Regions from separate parts of the Homo sapiens genome. Here region 2 is linked to region 1. Evidence: fine-mapped expression QTL. A gene starts in region 1. The other region holds a variant in brackets. All regions are shown on one strand. Distances are from middle to middle.

The links. PIP is the estimated chance that this variant, and not a neighbour inherited with it, causes the effect. A credible set is the group of variants that fine-mapping cannot tell apart.
Region 2: its variant is the best candidate, but not a certain one, in a credible set for the expression of TICAM2-AS1 in tibial artery (GTEx, PIP 0.85).

The regions. Positions count from the first base shown.
Region 1 is chr5:115,599,553-115,604,933 of GRCh38, reverse strand. It overlaps TICAM2-AS1 (TICAM2 antisense RNA 1), which reads right to left and starts at 2,779. Exons shown (of 3, transcript NR_109875.1): 1 at 2,474-2,779; 2 at 1,778-1,888. All of the region lies in intron 3 of TMED7-TICAM2 (TMED7-TICAM2 readthrough), which reads left to right. It overlaps TICAM2 (TIR domain containing adaptor molecule 2), which reads left to right and starts at 2,455. Exons shown (of 2, transcript NM_021649.7): 1 at 2,455-2,837. RefSeq lists a silencer at 2,464-2,963 and enhancers at 2,583-3,105, 3,054-3,133.
Region 2 is chr5:115,649,761-115,655,141 of GRCh38, reverse strand. The region is part of intron 3 of LOC102467217 (a long non-coding RNA gene); the gene reads left to right. Among named protein-coding and RNA genes, the nearest start is that of TMED7-TICAM2, 26 kb to the right of the region's middle. The variant G/A (reference allele first, on the strand shown) is at 2,131.

The DNA.
Region 1 (5,381 bases):
TATACCTTGAATGTGAATTATCTTTGTGAAGACAAAGTGCTACCTATTTCTTATGGAAATTGCCCAATGTAACCATCATGTTACCGGGTTGCCAGCAAGTCTCATTGACAGTAATGCCATATTAGGAACCCAGCCTTGGAAATGTAGTCACACTCCACGTTGTTGCCAGGTTGGGCATTCGGCAATGATAGTAGCCAAATAATGTAGGTAAGGAGAAGACCATACTATTGAACCTCTGTCACTGCTTTGATAGCCACTTGGTACATGGGCCCATTAACCAAGCCCTGGGTTGGCTGGAGAAAAAGACTGACATCTACCAGACAATTCATCTTGTTCCGCTTATTATTGAAAATCTTCTCCACCTGATGCATCCTGTTAGGCACTTATGGGGGATATGAATATCTTCACATGCCCTCACCACTCCAAGAGGGTTATCTGTAAGTCTCACGGACAGATCTTTTACAAATTTTCCATTTTGTTCTTTCCAAGAACCTAAAAGCTGGACAATCCATTAGACACTGCCTGTAAGTCAGTATATTTATCAGTTTGTCATGTCGTCCCCTCCTTTCTTGAATGTGAATAACCAGGTATGTAGCTAGAAATTGCCCACTAGGAAGATTCGCTGTCCCCATTAGCAATGCACGGATCTGAAATTGTCTCACTTCTTTACATATCTGTCTGTCTCCCAGATTAGACTATAAAATCTCCATGAGAACTAGGACTGTGTCTCCTGTTCGCACAATATCCCTAATGTCTAGCACATAGAATATATTCTAAACATATGTGGCGTAAGTGATTGATGCATTTTCTTGAACATTTGGAGAGAAAATGTTAAGCAATTAAACTTGTAACCAATTTAAGATTTTTTTTAGTACATGTGACTGTATTATGAAGAACAATGCAAAATTTGGAGCAATTTACAAGAAGATGGAACAGTTCAAGTAAATTTGCCCATGACACTAGTGACTTCAGGCTCTTTTATGTATGCAACCTAAGTGATGAATAGGGAAGTACGTGTTTATGGAATCTGTCATTGGTGGTATTTCAGTGGGAAAATGTGAAAAGCTCTGATTTTGAAGGGTTGCCAGAGAAAGAGGAACAGGCAGAGGAAACTGAAAGAAGAATTTTTTTTTTTTTTTTTTTTTTTTGAGACGGAGTCTCACTCTGTGGCCCAGGCTGGAGTGCAGTGGCGCGATCTCGGCTCACTGCAAGCTCCGCCTCCCGGGTTCAAGCCATTCTCCTGCCTCACCCTCCCAAGTAGCTGGGACTACAGGCAGCTGCCACCACTCCCGGCTAATTTTTTGTATTTTTTAGTAGAGACGGGGTTTCACCGTGTTAGCCAGGATGGTCTCGATCTCCTGACCTCGTGATTCACCCGCCTCGGCCTCCCAACAGGCCTGAAAGAATTTTAACAAGCAGGATGAGCATAAAGGCAAAGTGGGGTTGTCAACATCAAGGAAACAGAGTGTTGGGAAACAATGGTCGACTTTGTCAATCGCCAAAGAGACTCCCAGGAAAAATGAGGGCAACAAAAGTATCAGTTGGATTTAGGAGGCCACTGCTTACCCAAAGAGTTCAGGTAGAATTGTTGGGAGGTGCAGTGGTTGGAGAATCAACTCCGTGAATAATGAATTGTGTTGACACGGTACATAATACGGTATTTCTGACTACATTGGCGGCATTTCACTAAGTAATTACTACCTGAAGTGCCTACCTTCAGTAAGGCATCCTGTTGTTGGATGGGGAAAGAGAAGGAGGAAATAACTCTTAGCTTTACCTGTACTGTGCTTCTGAGACCCAGGTATGGACCTTCACTCCCAATTTACTATCCATGGTCTCATCCGATGTTCAGTAACTGGGTTCTCCTTTGGCAGGGAGTAGGGATTGCCTGAGAATTAAAAGGGGAGGGGAGATTTCTGAACTGGACCTCTTAGGTTATGACTAGATTGGGTGCCTGAGGCAGCAATGGGGCTTTATAAGGCTTCTTTACGCTTCATTTAACTAATTGCTTTTTTGTTCTCTCTTATTCAGTGGAGTTCCAATCTGTTCGGTTGTGGAGAACGAACCTGAGAAAAAGGATCTTTCGCAGGGTAGTTTTTGGGGGCAGAGGCTGATGTGCTGCACCCCCTAATCAGGGGTATGGTTGGCTGCAGTAGTCAAGTGAGAGGGCCGCAAAGGGAAAGGAAAAGTCGAGACTATCTTAGGGAACCAGGAGAGTCGCTGTACCTCTGAAAGATCTACGGTTTGTCTGGTCTGTAAGGAGCAAACACGGTGGAATTCCTTTCCAGATTTTTCTGGGCCTCGACCTCTGGCTTTTGGGGTACATGCCAAAAAAAAAAAAAAAAAAAAAAGCGCAGGGAGAGTCCACTAGCCTCGGTGACAGTTCCCCATTGCGGTTTCCCCTCCTCCACCCTTCTTTGCGAGCTCCTTCCCTCTGCAGAGAGTTATCCCGCCACATTAACCCCTGACTCACAGCTGGACCGCCCCGGCCCGCAGCGCCACGTCCCGGGTGGGGCCTGCCACGGCAAAGCAGCAGTCCGGCCTCGAGCGGCCCCTCGGGGGCGGCGGGGTGGGCGCCAACAGCAGTCAGGCCTGACAAGCGGCGACCTCCAAGGGTGAGGCCTCTGCGGGCCCCCGACTCACGCGCGTCCGGGCTCTGCAAGCGCGGTGGGGAGCAGGCTGCTGTGGTCGCGGGGACTGGGTTGCGGCGCGCCGCGTACGGGACGGCCCCAAACTCTCGACGCCCGGGGCAAGACGCCCACCCCCTGGGCGCTCTCGCTGGGCCAGAAAGGAAGACAGAAAAGCCGCGGGCTGACTGTGGTGGCGCTCGCCTGCAGGCAAGTACCGGGCGCTAGGGCGGGGGCCGCCGCCGGGGGCGCGGGGTGGGCTGGGGCCAGGCCGCCAGGGGCGCGGGGTGGTCTGGGGGCCAGGCCGCCTGCGCTACCTCCCCAGCCTACCCGACCCGACGGCGCGGGTGCTGGCGCTGTTGTCCCCAGCGGGGCGGGCAGGCCTTTCCGTCACTTGGCTTACTCTGAAGGGAAAATCCACACAGCTGTCTGCCTTTTTGTTTCATTTTGACTAGAAAACCCATTTTCGAAAAGACACCTCAGAACCATAAGCAAATAGCCCAGAGTCTTAAATGCTCTAAAGGCTCTGCATGAGCCCCTGCCAGGCACACAGAGCCAGTGCTGGAGGTTTTGGCATGGGTTTTCCTACTTGGCTTTTTGTGCAAAGCTAATTTGGATAAAAATAATTTGACTGGCAGCTGTGAGCTAGTTTTCAGTGTATTAGGACCTCTCCAGCTTTCCACGGTAGTAAACTTCTTAAAGAAAGTATTTTAAAATATTCTCATATTTATTATTATTTTTTAATTTATCCTTTTAATTTTGAAAAGCAAGGGTGGGAAAGGCTATATGATCTGGAGGTAAAAATACACCATTATATAGAGTTGAAGTGTCATCCCCTGAACCCACATTGCACGTCTACACAGGAGAAGAACTTGTCCTTCTCCAAGTGTTTAGTATTCCTTAGATTAGTGTTTTTCAAACAAGCCTGATGGTAAGACGCATTTGGGACTTTTGTTTAAAATGCATCCCCCCACCTCTGAAGGTTTAATTTGGTAAGCTTGATTTCCAGAATCTGTATTTCTATTTTTTTATTGTTTAATTTAATTTTATGTTCTGGGATACATGTGCAGGACTTGCAGGTTTGTTACATAGATAAACGTGTGCCATGGTGGTTTGCTGCACCTATCAGCCCATCAATCCTTACATTTTAATATTTTGAAGTAGTAGGATGGTTATAAATGGAGTTAAGCAACTCCACTTTATATCTCATTCAAATCAGAAAATAGATAAGCAGGTATAGAATATTGACACCTACATTTGAAGCAAAGTAAATGTGACATGTACGCCTTACCGTATGGAACTTGAAGTATAAACCATGTTTACACTGTTGAATCATGGGCATCTGTGTTGAGTCATTTGTTCCTTATGCTATTCTTAAAATGTATTCATTTAACAAATATCTGCTGTTAAATCTTCTGTCTTTAATCCCCCCTAGACCACACATCCCATTCTAGGTCCCGCTCCCCTACTTTGCTTCTTTTTATAACAAACAAAAATCCTCTTTGAAAGATTTAATCTAAGTCTCCATTTTCATTTTCCCTGTTTCTTCCTACCCCCTCTCATCTGAGGCTTTTTGTCCCCATTACCCCCTGCATGGTCCTGATGTTGCCAATGACTGTCTTGTGAAATCCAGTGTCTGTGCACAGTTCTCATCTTTCCTGACCCCTCAGTAACATTTGATCACTCCCTCCTCAATATTCTTTTTTCTTCACTAATGTTCTTCACTAATATTCTTTCTTCTTCACTTGGCTTCCAGGTCACCATATTCTGCATTTCATTCTGCTTCATTGTGTCTCCAGGCTTCCCCACCACTAAATCTTAGTATGCCACAGAGTTCATTTCTTGGCCATATTTTTCTAGCCATACTTTCCCCCAGGACAATTTGTATCCCAAGCCATATTCCTTGGCTATAAATAATATCTATCAGCTGATGACTTCCAAAATTTTATTCCTAGCTTTAGTTCGCTTCTGAGCTCCAGATGTATGTGTATGTCCAGCTGTTTACTCAGCATCTCCACTTGGAAGTCTGATAGGCATTTAAATTTAGTATGGACAGATAGAACTACTGATGCCAGATTCACCAAGTTCTCCCTCTGTTTCCCCTCAGCTCCCTCCCTTATCTCAATAAACAGCCTCAGTTACTGCCATTCAAGTAGGCCGGAATTCTAGGAATTTACTCTTGACTTCTCTTTTTAGGTCAGACTCCGCATCCAAGCATCCAACAAAATCTGTTGACTCTACCCAGATCTGCCCACCTCTCTCTCCCTCTCTAAGCTAAGCCACAGTCCTCTCCTACCTACATGATTGAGAAGTCTCTGCCTCTGCCCTTGCTCCTCTACAGTCTTTTCCAAATAGCAGTGATTTTTGTCATACATACTCAGAACTTTCATTTCCCTTCAAAACCTTCTGGTGGCTTCTTATCAGAATCACAAAAAAAAAGAAAGAAAAAAAAAAGAAAAGAAAAACAGGCTTACAATGGCTTTAAAGCCCTGTGTGATCTAGTCCCTGACTAGTTCTCTGAACTCATCTCCTGACTTCCCTCTCATCCACTCCACTGTAGTAACACTGATTGTGCTGCTGTTGCCTTTGCCTGCAGCTGGTGTCTGCTAGACCATTGCACACTGTACTCCCTCACTTCTCTGTTAGCATGCTGCCTCAGGGGTTACTGTGCTATTGCAGCAAGATCTCTTTTGCTGCTGGGCCTGTGCGGTAGGTTGCTATTAAATACTGAATGCTACTCTCTAGTATTCCATG
Region 2 (5,381 bases), 50 kb before region 1:
ACTATAGGCGCCCGCCACCATGCCTGGCTAATTTTTTTTCTTTTGTATTTTTAGTAGAGACAGGGTTTCACCGTGGTCTTGATCTCCTGACCTCATGATCCACCCACCTCGGCCTTCCAAATGCTGGGATTACAGACGTGAGCCACCGTGCCTGCCCGATTATCATTAGTTCTTATAGGTTTAGGATAGGCGTACAAAGTACATTCTTAAGGGCATGGAGAATATTACAAAATACCTTCTTAAGGGCAGGGGAGAATATTACAAAGTACCTTCTTAAGGGCAGGGGAGAATATTACAGAGTACCTTTTTAAGGGCGGCAGAGACTATGTCATATCAGTTAGGGTGGGGCAGGAACAAATCACAAGGGTGGAATGTCATCAATTAAGGCTATTTTCACTTCTTTTGTGGATCTTCAGTTGCTTCAGGCCATCTGGATGTATACCTGCAGGTCACAGGGGATATGATGGCTTTGCTTGGGCTCAGAGGCCTGAGATCCCTGTCTTCTTATATTAATAAGAAAAACAAAACAAAATAGTGGTGAAGTGTTGGGGTGGCGAAAATTTTTGGGGGTGGTATGGAGAGATAATGGGTGATGTTCTCAGGGCTGCTTTGAAAGGGATTAGGGGCAGCATGGGAACCTAGAGTGGGAGAGATTAATGAGTTCGGTTTGCTGAGAAGTAGTGGAGGGGGGCAGAGTGGTAGCCTCAATGATAAACATGGAAAATACTATAGTATAGCCTGCCTTTGCTGGTGAGTGGCAATTAGCCCTGGTGGAACTGCCATCAATAAACCAAGTGTGATCAGGATGAGAAATAGGAAAGAAGGAAATATGGGGAAATGGAGTGACTGTCACATGGATGAGAGATACAGTCATGGGGATCAGGTGTGGTATCCGGAATAATGTGGGAGGCCAGATTGAAGTCTGGGCCAGGAGCAATGGTAATTGTGGGAGACTCAACAAAGAGGGAGTATAGCTGAAGGAGCTGAGGGGCAGAAAGTATATGCATCAAGTGTGAGGAGGAAAATAGATTTTGAAAGTTATGAGAACTGTAGAGAGTAAGTGGAGCATAGCTTGTGATTTTGAGGGCCTCTAAAAGTATTAAAGCAGTGGCAGCCGCCACACGCAGACATGGCTAGGCTAAAACAGTAAGGTCAAGTTGTTTGGACAGAAAGGCTACAGAGCGCGGTCCCGGTTCTTGTGTAAGAATTCTGACCACACAGCCCTGTACTTCGGCTGTGTGTAATGAAAAGGGTTGGGATGAGTTAGGGAGAGCTAGTGTGAGAGCAGCTTTTAGGGCTGTTTTTTAAGGAATGGAAAGGGGAGTAGGGGAAGGATTTAGGATTTATGGGGTCAGCTAGGTTTATCTAGAACAGAATAATGGGTTGTGGAGGGAGGTGTGGAGGATAGGAGAGTATATGGGTTTGGCACCACGGGGTGGATAGGCAAGACAATTTGGTTGATAAGGTTCAGATCCTGAACTAACCTGTAAGACTCGTCCGGTTTTTGGACAGGTAAAATGTGAGAATTGTAAGGAGAATTTATAGGCTTTAAAAGGCCATACTGTAGCAGGCAAGTGATATCAGGCTTTAATCCTCTTAAAGCCTGTTGTGGGATGGGATATTGGCGTTGAGCTGGGTAAGGGTGATTAGGTTTTAATGGGATGGTAAGGGGCACATGATCGGTTGCCAAAGAGGGAGTAGAGGTATCCCATACTTGTGGATTAAGGTGGGGAGATACAAGGTGAGGATGTGAAGGAGACTTCGAACTGGGGAAAAGGGCGGCAATGAGGTACGGCTGTAGCCCAGGAATAGTCAGGGAAGCAGATAATTTAGTTAAAATGTCTCGACCTAATAAGGGAGCTGGGCAAGTGGGGATAACTCAAAAGGACTGCATTAAGGAATGTTGTTCAAGTTGGCACCAGAGTTGGGGAGTTTTAAGAGGTTTAGAAGCCTGGCCGTCAATACCCACAACAGTTATGGAGGCAAGGGAAACAGGCCCTTGAAAAGAAGGTAATGTGGAGTTGGTAGCCTCCATATTAATTAAGAAGAGGACGGCCTTACCCTCCACTGTAAGAGTTGCGCAAAGCTCGGCATCAGTGATTGTCCGGGGGGCCTCCAAGGAGATCGGGC[G/A]GCATCAGTCTTCAGCTGCTAAGCCAAGAAGATCTGGGAAGGAGTCAGTCAGAGAGCCTTAGGCCAGAATTCCAGGGGCTCTGGGAGTGGCTGCCGGGCGAGTTGGACAGTCCAATTTCCAGTGGGGTCCTGCACAGTTGGCACATGGCTTAGGAGGAATCCCAGGCTGCGAGCATTCCTTGGCCCAGTGGCCAGATTTCCAGCACTTGAAACAATCTCCTGGGGGAGGCAGTCCTGGAGGAACACCTGGCTACTGTGGTTCAGACGTTTTGAAGTTCTTGTATGCTGGAGATGTGGCTGGGGTTTCTCTCAAAGTGGAGGCAAGTAATTGCAACTCAGAAATACGTTGCCACTTGGCTGCCTCTATTCTATTATTGTATACCACCTTGAAGGGGAGGTTAATTAGGTCTTCTTGTGGGGTTTGAGGGCTGGAATCTAATTTTTGGAGCTTTTTCTAATGTCGGGAGCAGATTGGGTAATAAAATGCATATTGAGAATAAGACAGCCTTCCTCTGGGGTCTAGGACAGTAAAGTGTCTAAGGGTTGTTGCCAAACAGGCCATGAACTGGGCTGGGTTTTTATATTTGACGAAAAAGAGCCTAAATGCTAACTCATTTGGGAGAGGTCGGATAAAGAAAAAAGGAGCATTAACCTTGACTATGCCTTTAGCTCTAGCCACCTCTTCAAGAGGAAACTGTTGGGCAGGTGAGGGAGGGCTAGTCGTGGAACGAAACTGTAAGCCAGACCGGGTGTGAGGAGGGGAGATGATAGGAGGATTATACAGTGGGGGAGCAGAGGCTGAGGAAGAATTGGGACCTGGCTCGGCCTGGTGAGGAGCAGCCTGGCGAGAAGGGGAGAGGTGAGATGAGTCCATAGAAAAGAAGGATTCAAAGGACTCAGAACTTGGGGTGGAGACTGAAGGAACAGACAGGAGAGAAAGAAGAAAGATTTGGGATGAGTCACATTGGGAACAGAGACTAGGGAGGGACTGATGTGTAAAAGAATGCCTGGACGTCAGGCACCTCAGACCATTTGTCCATTTTTCGACAAAAATCATCCAGGTCTTGTAAAATGGAGAAATCAAAAGTGCCGTTTTCTGGCTACTTGGAACTACTGTCGAGTTTGTACTGGGGCCAAGCAGTATTGCAGAAGAAAATAAAGTGTTTAGGTTTTAGGTCAGGTGTGAGTCGAAGGGGTTTTAGGTTTTTAAGAACACAGGCTAAGGGAGAAGATGGGGGAATGGAGGGCGGAAGGTTGCCCATAGTGAAGGAGGTGAGTTTAAAGAGAAAGGTAGAGACACGGAGAAGGGGCAGTGGGGGGCGGTGAGCAGCCCTGGGCTGCAATGTGGATGAGCAGCCAAAGCAGGTGTCCCCGCAATTGACCTGCCACTGAGGTAATGTGGGTGAATGACCAAGGCAGGCGTCCCCACGGTAATCAGACATCAATGGAGTGTGGGTGAATATTCAGGCAGGCATCGCCACAGTGATTAAACACCAAGGGAAGACTGTCTTCCCGAGTCCGTGACCGACGCTGGAGTTTTGGGTCCATGGATAAAATGTATCTCTTTTGTCTCTACTAGAGAGGAAAAAGAGCTGGAATTGGAAGGACAGGGAGATTGAAGGGTAGCAAGAGAGACTGGAGAACAGTGAAAAGACCGCTTACCTGATTTGAAATGGTGAGATGTTCCTTGGGCTGGTTGGTCTGAGGACCCGAGGTTGTAGGTGGGTCTCCTCATGGAGTGAGGGCAAGGACAGGGGACTGATCTCCCAAAGGAGTCCACCTGTCCCGGGTCTTTGGCACCAAATGTCACACGCGTCTGTGTGAAGAGAGCACCAAGCAGGCTTTGTGTGAGCAATAAGGCTGTTTATTTCACCTGGGTGCCGGCGGGCTGAGTCCAAAAAAGAAGTCAGCAAAGGGTAGTAGGATTATCATTAGTTCTTATAGGTTTGGGATAGGCATACAAAGTACATTCTTAAGGGCTGGGGAGAATATTACAAAGCACCTTCTTAAGGGCAGGGGAGACTATATCATGTCAGTTAGGATGGGGCAGGAACAAATCACAATGGTGGAATGTCATCAGTTAAGGCTATTTTCTCTTCTTTTGTGGATCTTCAGTTGCTTCAGGTCATCTGGATGTATACGTGCAGGTCACAGGGCATATGCTGGCTTTGCTTGGGCTCAGAGGCCTGACAATTTGCAAATGTTTTCTCACATTCAGTGGGTTGACCTTATATTTTTGTTGTAGTGTCCTTTGAAGCACAAGAACTTCTAACTTTGAAGTTTAATTTATTTATATTTTCTTTGGTTGCTTTCTGCTTTTTGTTCATATTTAAAAGACCATTTTTTAGGCTGGGCGTGGTGGCTCATGCCTGTAATCCCAGCACTTTGGGAGGCGGAGATGGGTGGATCACGAGGTCAGGAGTTCGAGACCAGCCTGGCCAACATGGTGAAATCCTATCTCTATTAAAAATACATAAATTAGCCAGGCATGGTGGCAGGCGCCTGTAGTCTCAGCTACTCCAGAGGCTGAGGCAGGAGAATCACTTGAAACAGGAAGGCAGAGGTTGCAGTAAGCCAAGATCACATCACTGCACTCTAGTCCTGGGCAACAAGAGTGAAACTCCTTCTCCAAAAAAAAAAAAAAAAAAAAAAAAAGATTCCTTAATCAAAAGTCATGAAAATGTACACCTTTGCTTTCTCATGAAGGTTTTATAGTGTAAGCTCTTACATTTAGATCTATAGTTCATTTTTAGTTCATTTATGTTTGTGTGAGGAAGGGGTCTCAGCTTCATCTAGTTGTACCAGCACCATTTATTGAAAAGCCTACTCTTTCCCCCACTGAATTGTCTTAGCACAATTGGCTGTAAACGTAATGTTTTATTTTTGGCCTCTCAATTCCATTCTATTGGTTTGTATGTCTATTTTTAATGTCTTGATTTTTATGTCTTGATTACTGTAGTTGTGTAGTGAGTTTTGTGATAAGTGTGAATCCTCCAATTGTTTTTCTTTCTCAAGATTATTTTGGCTATTTGAAGTTCTTTACATATCCATATGAATTTTAGGATCCGCTTGTCAATTTATGCAAAGAAGGCAACTGAAATTTTGATAGAAATTGCATTCGATCTATCACTAACTTGATTTAAACTTTTAACTATTTATAAATATGATATGTAGATCTCCAGGCCCCACAAATAGATAGGACTTTGTATTATTTTTGTGACTCATTGTGATTCTATGAAGAAGATATTATT